2 linked regions of the Homo sapiens genome follow. The protein of the gene in region 1 purifies or fractionates together with the protein of each later gene. This does not show direct contact. Each region holds a gene or a part of one and is shown on either strand. Other genes may lie near its edges. The genes, in order: EIF2S3B and ZNF326.

What was found.
Region 2: the proteins of EIF2S3B (region 1) and ZNF326 fractionate together in Homo sapiens (co-fractionation; one large-scale study listed by BioGRID). This does not show direct contact.

The regions. Positions count from the first base shown.
Region 1 is NC_000012.12:10,504,365-10,508,906, forward strand, and holds EIF2S3B (eukaryotic translation initiation factor 2 subunit 3B), read left to right. Parts: upstream 1-1,525; 5' UTR 1,526-1,538; coding exon 1,539-2,957; 3' UTR 2,958-4,161; downstream 4,162-4,542. UniProt on the Homo sapiens protein: Member of the eIF2 complex that functions in the early steps of protein synthesis by forming a ternary complex with GTP and initiator tRNA.
Region 2 is NC_000001.11:90,005,073-90,008,896, forward strand, and holds part of ZNF326 (DBIRD complex subunit ZNF326), read left to right. Parts: exon of another isoform or gene 1-20; intron 21-60; coding exon 61-172; coding exon of another isoform or gene 173-176; exon of another isoform or gene 177-1,373; intron 1,374-2,272; coding exon 2,273-2,678; intron 2,679-3,824. UniProt on the Homo sapiens protein: Core component of the DBIRD complex, a multiprotein complex that acts at the interface between core mRNP particles and RNA polymerase II (RNAPII) and integrates transcript elongation with the regulation of alternative splicing: the DBIRD complex affects local transcript elongation rates and alternative splicing of a large set of exons embedded in (A + T)-rich DNA regions.

The sequences.
Region 1 (4,542 bases):
ATATACCCAGAAGAAGGAGATGAGCCATCCTCTCACTTTCATTTATTACCCTCTTCCTTAAAACGAATATATCCATATACATATATATGAAGATATATATATATATATATATATATATATATATATATATATATATATGTTGGTAAGAATGTGAAGAAATTGGAACCCTAGCACATTGTTGATAAGAATGCACTATGAAAAAGGTGTATAGAGCTTCCTCAAAAATTAAGAGTAAAACTACCCATATAACCCAATAATATCACTTCTGGGTATACAGTATATCCAAAAGAATTAAAATTAGTATCTTGAAGAGATATCTGCACTCCCACATCAATGGTAGGATTATCAAGAATAAATAATATTTAAACAACCTAAATGTACACTGACAGATGAACAGATAAAGAAAATGTAGTATGTACATATGATGGAATATTCTTCAGCCTTAAAGAAAGAATATTCTGCCATTCATGACAACATGAATGACCCTTGAGGACATTAAGCTAAATAAAATAAGCCAGTCACAGAAGAACAAATGCTTTATGATTATACTATATGAGTTATCTAAAGTAGTCAAATTCATAGGAACAGAGAATGGTGGTTACCAGGGACTCACTTTCAATTGGTTAAGTTTCAGTTACGAAAGACGAATAAGTTCTAGAGATATACTGTACCACATAGTACGTATAGTTAGCAACAATACGTTGATCACTTTAAAATCTGCTAGGAGGGTAGATCTCATGTCAAGTGTCTTACTTGCCCTCTGCTCCCAAAATAAAGGTACTCAAGAAAAACTTTGTAGATGATAAACATGCCTACTATCTTCATTGGGTGATGGTATTACGAATGTATGCATATGTCCAAACTCATCAAATTGTATACGTTAAAAATGCACAGTTTTTTTGTATATAAACTATACCTCAATAAAGCTATTGTAATAAATCTCCAATATAGCATCTATTAATGGTCATCACTCCAACATAATTTGAAGAAATGAAAATTATAATATAAACCACGACATAGCTATTTGTTTCGAACAAAAAATAAATATATTAATAATTAATCTTCTTAAAGAAGAAAAATATTTAGTGTAGAATTATTCAGTGTGTTGCTGGTTTTGTGTCTTCTTAGAAATGTAATAGCAGGCTGTATATACAAGATCCATTTTCATATAAATAGATTACAATGGTCCATTAATTTTTTAAGTATTTATCTGTGGTCAACTGAAAATATATTTTCGACCCGCCTCGCATGGGCCCAGGGGGCGGGGGTTTGGGTGGCTGCCCTCAGTATTGCCTGCACAAATATCTACCAAGTCTGCGACGAATAGCTCCAGCAACTTTGCACCGTGTTTTCCAGTAAGCCTACCGACAGGCACTGTGCAGATTCAAGCAGAGAGAAGTCCAAGCACTGAGGCCGCTGCTGCACCGGCCATCCTGAGACCCTAGTCGACCTTCCGGCCTCCGCATCCCCGCCCCGCACTAGGACCCCTGCAGACGATCAGGCGGCAGCCGGGGTGACTTTCTTCCTCTTTTGGCAACATGGCGGGCGGAGAAGCTGGGGTGACTCTGGGGCAGCCGCACCTTTCGCGTCAGGATCTCACCACCTTGGATGTTACCAAGTTGACGCCACTTTCACACGAAGTTATCAGCAGACAAGCCACAATTAATATAGGTACAATTGGTCATGTAGCTCATGGGAAATCCACAGTCGTCAAAGCTATTTCTGGAGTTCACACCGTCAGGTTCAAAAATGAACTAGAAAGAAATATTACAATCAAGCTTGGATATGCTAATGCTAAGATTTATCAACTTGATGACCCAAGTTGCCCTCGGCCAGAATGTTATCGATCTTGTGGGAGCAGTATGCCTGATGAGTTTCCTACAGACATTCCAGGAACCAAAGGGAACTTCAGATTAGTCAGACATGTTTCCTTTGTTGACTGTCCTGGCCACGATATTTTGATGGCTACTATGCTGAACGGTGCAGCAGTGATGGATGCAGCTCTTCTGTTGATAGCTGGTAATGAATCTTGCCCTCAGCCTCAGACATCTGAACACCTGGCTGCTATAGAGATCATGAAACTGAAGCATATTTTGATTCTACAAAATAAAATTGATTTGGTAAAAGAAAGGCAGGCTAAAGAACAATACGAGCAGATCCTTGCGTTTGTCCAAGGTACAGTAGCAGAGGGAGCTCCCATTATTCCAATTTCGGCTCAGCTGAAATACAATATTGAAGTTGTTTGTGAGTACATAGTAAAGAAAATTCCAGTACCCCCAAGAGACTTTACTTCAGAGCCCCGGCTTATTGTTATTAGATCTTTTGATGTCAACAAACCTGGCTGTGAAGTTGATGACCTTAAGGGAGGTGTAGCTGGTGGTAGTATCCTAAAAGGAGTATTAAAGGTGGGCCAGGAGACAGAAGTAAGACCTGGTATTGTTTCCAAAGATAGTGAAGGAAAACTCATGTGTAAATCAATCTTTTCCAAAATTGTTTCACTTTTTGCGGAGCATAATGATCTGCAATATGCTGCTCCAGGCGGTCTTATTGGAGTTGGAACAAAAATTGACCCCACTTTGTGCCGGGCTGACAGAATGGTGGGGCAAATACTTGGTGCAGTCGGAGCTTTACCTGAGATATTCACAGAATTGGAAATTTCCTATTTCCTGCTTAGACGGCTTCTAGGTGTACGCACTGAAGGAGACAAGAAAGCAGCAAAGGTTCAAAAGCTGTCTAAGAATGAAGTGCTCATGGTGAACATAGGATCCCTGTCGACAGGAGGGAGAGTTAGTGCTGTCAAGGCCGATTTGGGCAAAATTGTTTTGACCAATCCAGTGTGCACAGAGGTAGGAGAAAAAATTGCCCTTAGCCGAAGAGTTGAAAAACACTGGCGTTTAATTGGTTGGGGTCAGATAAGAAGAGGAGTGACAATCAAGCCAACAGTAGATGATGACTGAAGAATACCGGTTAAATAATACATTCGGATGGAGCTGGAAGTTGCAATTTCTCTTTAACAACCAAGGGGTTTATTTTCAAAGCGATATTGGGGAATTGATTTCACAGTTTGTTACCTTAGTAGGTAACGGTAAGGTTATTCTCTCTTTTTTTTTTTGGTTATGAAAACTTAGGGACTACAATTAGTATAAAAATTGGCATAATGTTGGATTGAATCTACATTTTGGCAGAAGTTAAGCATTCCCACATAATGTCAAAATTATACATTATGCAGTTTTTTTGTTTGTTTTATTTTGTTTTGTTTTTGAGTCTGGCTTTGTCACCTAGGCTGGCATGTAGTGGCATGATCTGCAATCTCTGCCTCCCAGGTTCAAGCGATTCTCCTGCCTCAGCCCCCCAAGTAGCTGAGATTACAGGTGTGTGCCACCACACGGGGCTAATTTTTGTATTAGTAGAGACGGGGTTTCGGCATGTTGGCCAGGCCAGTCTCTCCTGACCTCAGGGTGATCAGCCCACCTCGGCCTCACAAAGTGCCGGGATTACAGGCGTGAGCCACCTTGCCTAGCCCACATCATGCAGTTTGAAATGAAACTTTGCCACAACCAGCCTTTGCTGTAGCACACACATATATCACTGAAACTGTTCGAAATAAAGTTTTTTTTTGTTTTTCATGATTCGTCTTTGAGTACCTCCAGGCTGAAGGACTGTTGTACCAGTAAAAACTTAAAGGCACAAATTATCCTTGAAGACCTTCTCCCTTTTCTTTGGCCCCATATTTTATGTTGCTTTATCTTTGAAATTTTGCATGAAAAGGATGCAATGAATGGGTTCGAATTGCATGAAAAGGATGCACGAATGGGTTCGAATGAAATTGTCCTTTAGAGCATGATTACTTGTTCCCATGGGCAAATAATTTTCTCCCCTTGCTCTTCCTGGCCTGAAATACGGGAAACTAGAGTCAGAAGTTATCTCCCTCTCCCTGTGATGCCTTGAGATGTTTTTCTGCATTGTTTTATGCCTGAAATCCAATAGTCTTCCTCCATTGGAAAATACTGTTATACCAAATAATTCTAGATGAGTAACAAAGATCCTTCTAGGCCTTCATTTTATGTTTTTTCTTAACTGTTATATGATTGTGACACAGATTATAATATTACTAATTTTTGGATGTTTCAAAAGGTCAATAAGTAAAAGATGTTAGAAAGCAAAAAAAAAAAAAAAAAAAAAAAAGAAAATATATTTTCTATCATGTTCTTCTGATAAAGTAATTCAAACTTTAACCAGCCCTGAAGACGGCATTGTGATTATACATCCCTGGGTTCTCCTGCTGACCTAAAGTAATATTAATCTCCATATATAACATTAAAATATATTCCCTTATTAGCTTAAGGGAATAAATGTGAATAATCAAATTTTTTCTTTTGTTAGTGTAGGGCAAATTAAAATTTTTCTGCTTTTTAAAGTTATGAAACCATAGACTCATAGAAAAAAAATTCTTCATATACAGGATTTAAGTATAAAAACTTGCGTGTACATATGTGTATATAAATTCTTAGAAAAGTTGTTAAAATCTCTTATATGTTAAAG
Region 2 (3,824 bases), on another chromosome or scaffold:
TCTTTTGAGTGCCAGTAAAGGTGAGCATCATATAACTTTTTTCTTTTTAAACTCTTATAGGGATGGATCGTGACTATGGCCATGGATCCTATGGGGGTCAGAGATCCATGGATTCCTACCTAAACCAGTCATATGGCATGGACAATCACAGTGGTGGTGGTGGGGGTAGCAGGTAAATTGCTTAATCATTTGGCCAAATAATTAGACAACTATAAGATTTTGGATATATTATTTTAAGTACTCTTTAGGCATGTTATGATACTTGAACTTCACTGTTTGCTATTGAATCATCACCTTAAATATTTAAAGGTGTTAATTAATGGGTATAAAATTTAAATCAGTATTACTGGCAGACGTTATTTTAGGAAAACACCAGATAACTATATCATGTCAATATAATAGAGTAAGATACACTTTTTAGCAGTGAACTTTTAAAAAATTCTTTTACTTTTAACTTCTTGTCAATCAAAGTATCCTGAAAAATGATATAAAAATGTTATTGAAAATATTATTTATGAAGCTTTTTCTTAATAATTAAAAAAAATCTTTTCTAATGTGGGGTGCTATGTAAATTAGCAAAGCAGTCTAACTAGAATGGATTTTACTGAACCAGTCTAACATTTACTTTCCAAGAAACATTCAGGACATATTCCTTTAATTCTAATTTTAAAGGAAGAGCATATTGCAATAATAAAAATATTTTTAAAATTATGTTCAGGTTATTTATTGACAGGTACTACTTACACCAAAGCACTTGTGCTCTAGGCTAGAAGCATTGTATTAAAGCCATGAATACTATACCTTTGACTAGTCGAGATTGTATTTATATTTTCCTGTTACTACTGTATAAAGCTTAAACCTACTTAAACAACTACAAGCTTTAAGGTTGACCATATTTCAGGAGAAGGGGTGTCTACTTTTTGAGGCACAAAGGTTCCTGCTGAATATAAGTAAAACTAGTTAGTAGACATGTGAAACAGTCATCCTTCTGCATAAATTGAAGGATCCGGATTCCTTAATGATGGACTGAATGATGCTTACTTTCCTTCTTTCTGCTTCCAGTGTACCACTATGGTTTATAGTAAAGAAAAATTAAGAAAGTGAACAGTTGCAACTATTTTGCTTATGTGATAGATGTTTTGAAAAATGTAGTTGGAAATAGGAATAATTTTTATATGGTTACTAGGATTCAGAAGTAAATCTATTTAGTGATCTGTAAATAATTGAAGTAATGTAACACTTAATGTTTTAATATGTCAGTTATTGCCCTTTTATATTGTGAATGTAATGTGCATAAGCTATATCCGTAGATGTTATTGTTTTATCTCATGTGTAATTGTGGGCCTTTATAAAATTGTGTTGTAAGATATCAAGCAACTTTTGTAATCCATGCTTTGGGTTTGTGAGAAGGAAGATGATTTATTTCTTCTGTTAACTCTCTTAAAACCTCGAGGAGACTGTGTGCTCCCTTTTTTAGGGTAGTTTTATGTGATAATTTCCTGAAGGAAATAATTTTGCAAATAATTGAATATATTATAAGATGTATTCTTTCTCATCTGCCTTGAAAATTCATATGCAGAGGGTATATGTTGGTGATCTTTTATGTTTTATCTGTTTATCCTTCTAGATTTGTTAGATTTTCTAGTCTACAAGTAAAAAGTGATTGAGGATTGATTAATTGACCTTGGCTGAAGTTTGGCAGATTGTTAAATTTTTATAACCAGAGATAATTCCCCAAATTTTGACTCCTACAGACACAATGAAGCAGTTTGTGATATAGATTATTGGGAGTGCAAAAGGATCTCTCTGTGTCACAAATAACCTACATCTAAGTAGACTTCAATTTGTGTCCCTATTGAAAGCCAAAATATTGTAAATGTTTTGTAATTTTTAATATTAGGGATAGATTCAAAAAAGTTTGAATAGTTTGTGAACTTTAGCAAATGACCTTTTCCAAGACTAGGGCTGGGCTTAAATAATGACAGACAAATCTTTTCTTCTTCATAAAATAGAAAAGCTGCTAAGAAGCAGATTTTAAAGCTAAGTTTTACTAAACTCAATTCATATTTATAATCTGACTCAGATAGCTTTCTATCTGGTCTCACGTTGAACTGCCCAGCCCTAATCAAATGTGAACAAAAGTAGAACTGTGCAAACCAGTATGGTATAAATGAATTTTAGTTGATAAATGTCATCTGATAATTTGTCTTTTGAATTGTCTAACATTAGTAAGCTTACTTTTGTTTTTTCCCTCACTGTGCAACTTTTCCAGGTTTGGACCTTATGAGTCTTACGACTCCAGGTCTTCTCTGGGTGGGCGAGATCTGTACAGATCTGGCTATGGTTTTAATGAACCCGAACAAAGCCGCTTCGGAGGTAGTTATGGTGGTCGATTTGAGAGCTCCTACCGGAATAGCCTTGACTCTTTCGGAGGTAGAAACCAGGGCGGGTCTAGCTGGGAAGCACCTTACTCCCGTTCAAAATTGAGGCCTGGGTTTATGGAGGACAGAGGAAGAGAGAATTACTCTTCCTACAGCAGTTTTTCTTCACCCCATATGAAGCCTGCACCTGTAGGCTCTCGGGGGAGAGGAACGCCTGCTTATCCTGAAAGTACGTTTGGAAGCAGAAACTATGATGCTTTTGGAGGACCATCAACAGGCAGAGGCCGAGGCCGAGGAGTAAGTACAACAGAATCTTTTCAGATTCTTTTCACTAGTCACTCTTTTAAACCCTTTCAAGACCATCGTTTTCAACTAGAATAAACACTGTTCATCCCGGTGTATTTTGAAGCAAAAGCTGAGTCATAAACATAATTTTTAGGTTGACTGTAAAAGTTTTTCTAGCACCTCAGAAAATAAGTGGCAGTTTGAGATGATCATAAAGTTGTGCCAAATCTCCCTTTATTAAAAAGGTGAGGCTACTGGTTTGGTCTAAAAGGGGTTAAAAGGAGTTGCATTTTCCTTGTAAACACTAGCAGTTTTGCTGGTGGAATAGTTTGTGGATTATTGTGAAAGGTCACTGAACCCTTTTTGAGTTTTTGAGTAGGTTAAAGGTGCAATGTATGATAAAATGTTTATACTTTGTGGCTAAACTCTAGCAAGTAGAATTTCTTCAAAGCTCCATGTTTCACATTAAACACAGGAGACTAAAAGTTGATGATAGATCAGGATAGCTTAGCCATGTTTATGTGGTGAAGAAGTTGATGTGTATAATAGATTGTACAATGATTTGTGGTCAGTGTAATTTTGCTAACTCACGCTTACAATATGTCCAGTTGCTGGTTGTTTTATTTTCCCTCGTGTTACTAGTTTTACTCTTGAGAAATAATTTCCACCTGTACAGATATGTTTATGGTTTCTTCTTAGGAAGTAATATTTTGTAAATTATTGCTTAAATGAGTAAATATACTAGTCCACAGTTGTTTAAGTTTAGGGTACATAGTGTAAACATTATGCTTTATGTTCTTAGGTCACTTGATTGACATGAAAATTTACCTAGTAAGTGTATGCAGATTGTGGGGTTATTATATAGTTTGATCATTTAAAGAGTATTGTATTTTTGTTATAATGTAAGAATCCTTTTAAGTCAGCTGCTCTTAATATTTTATTTGCAGAGGAAAGTATTTCTAGTAAAAAAGGTAGTAGGGTACACGTTTTTGACTGGTTATTAGCTTTTGATATGTCAGTGTAGCTTGTTATACTTGTGTAGAAATTTTGCATTTTTAACAGTTACTCTTTACTTATGTAAAAATGCATTGCACCTTTAATGCGTAATTAAGGAAGATTTTCCTGTTGTGACTTTTTAAATTACCTGGAAACACAACT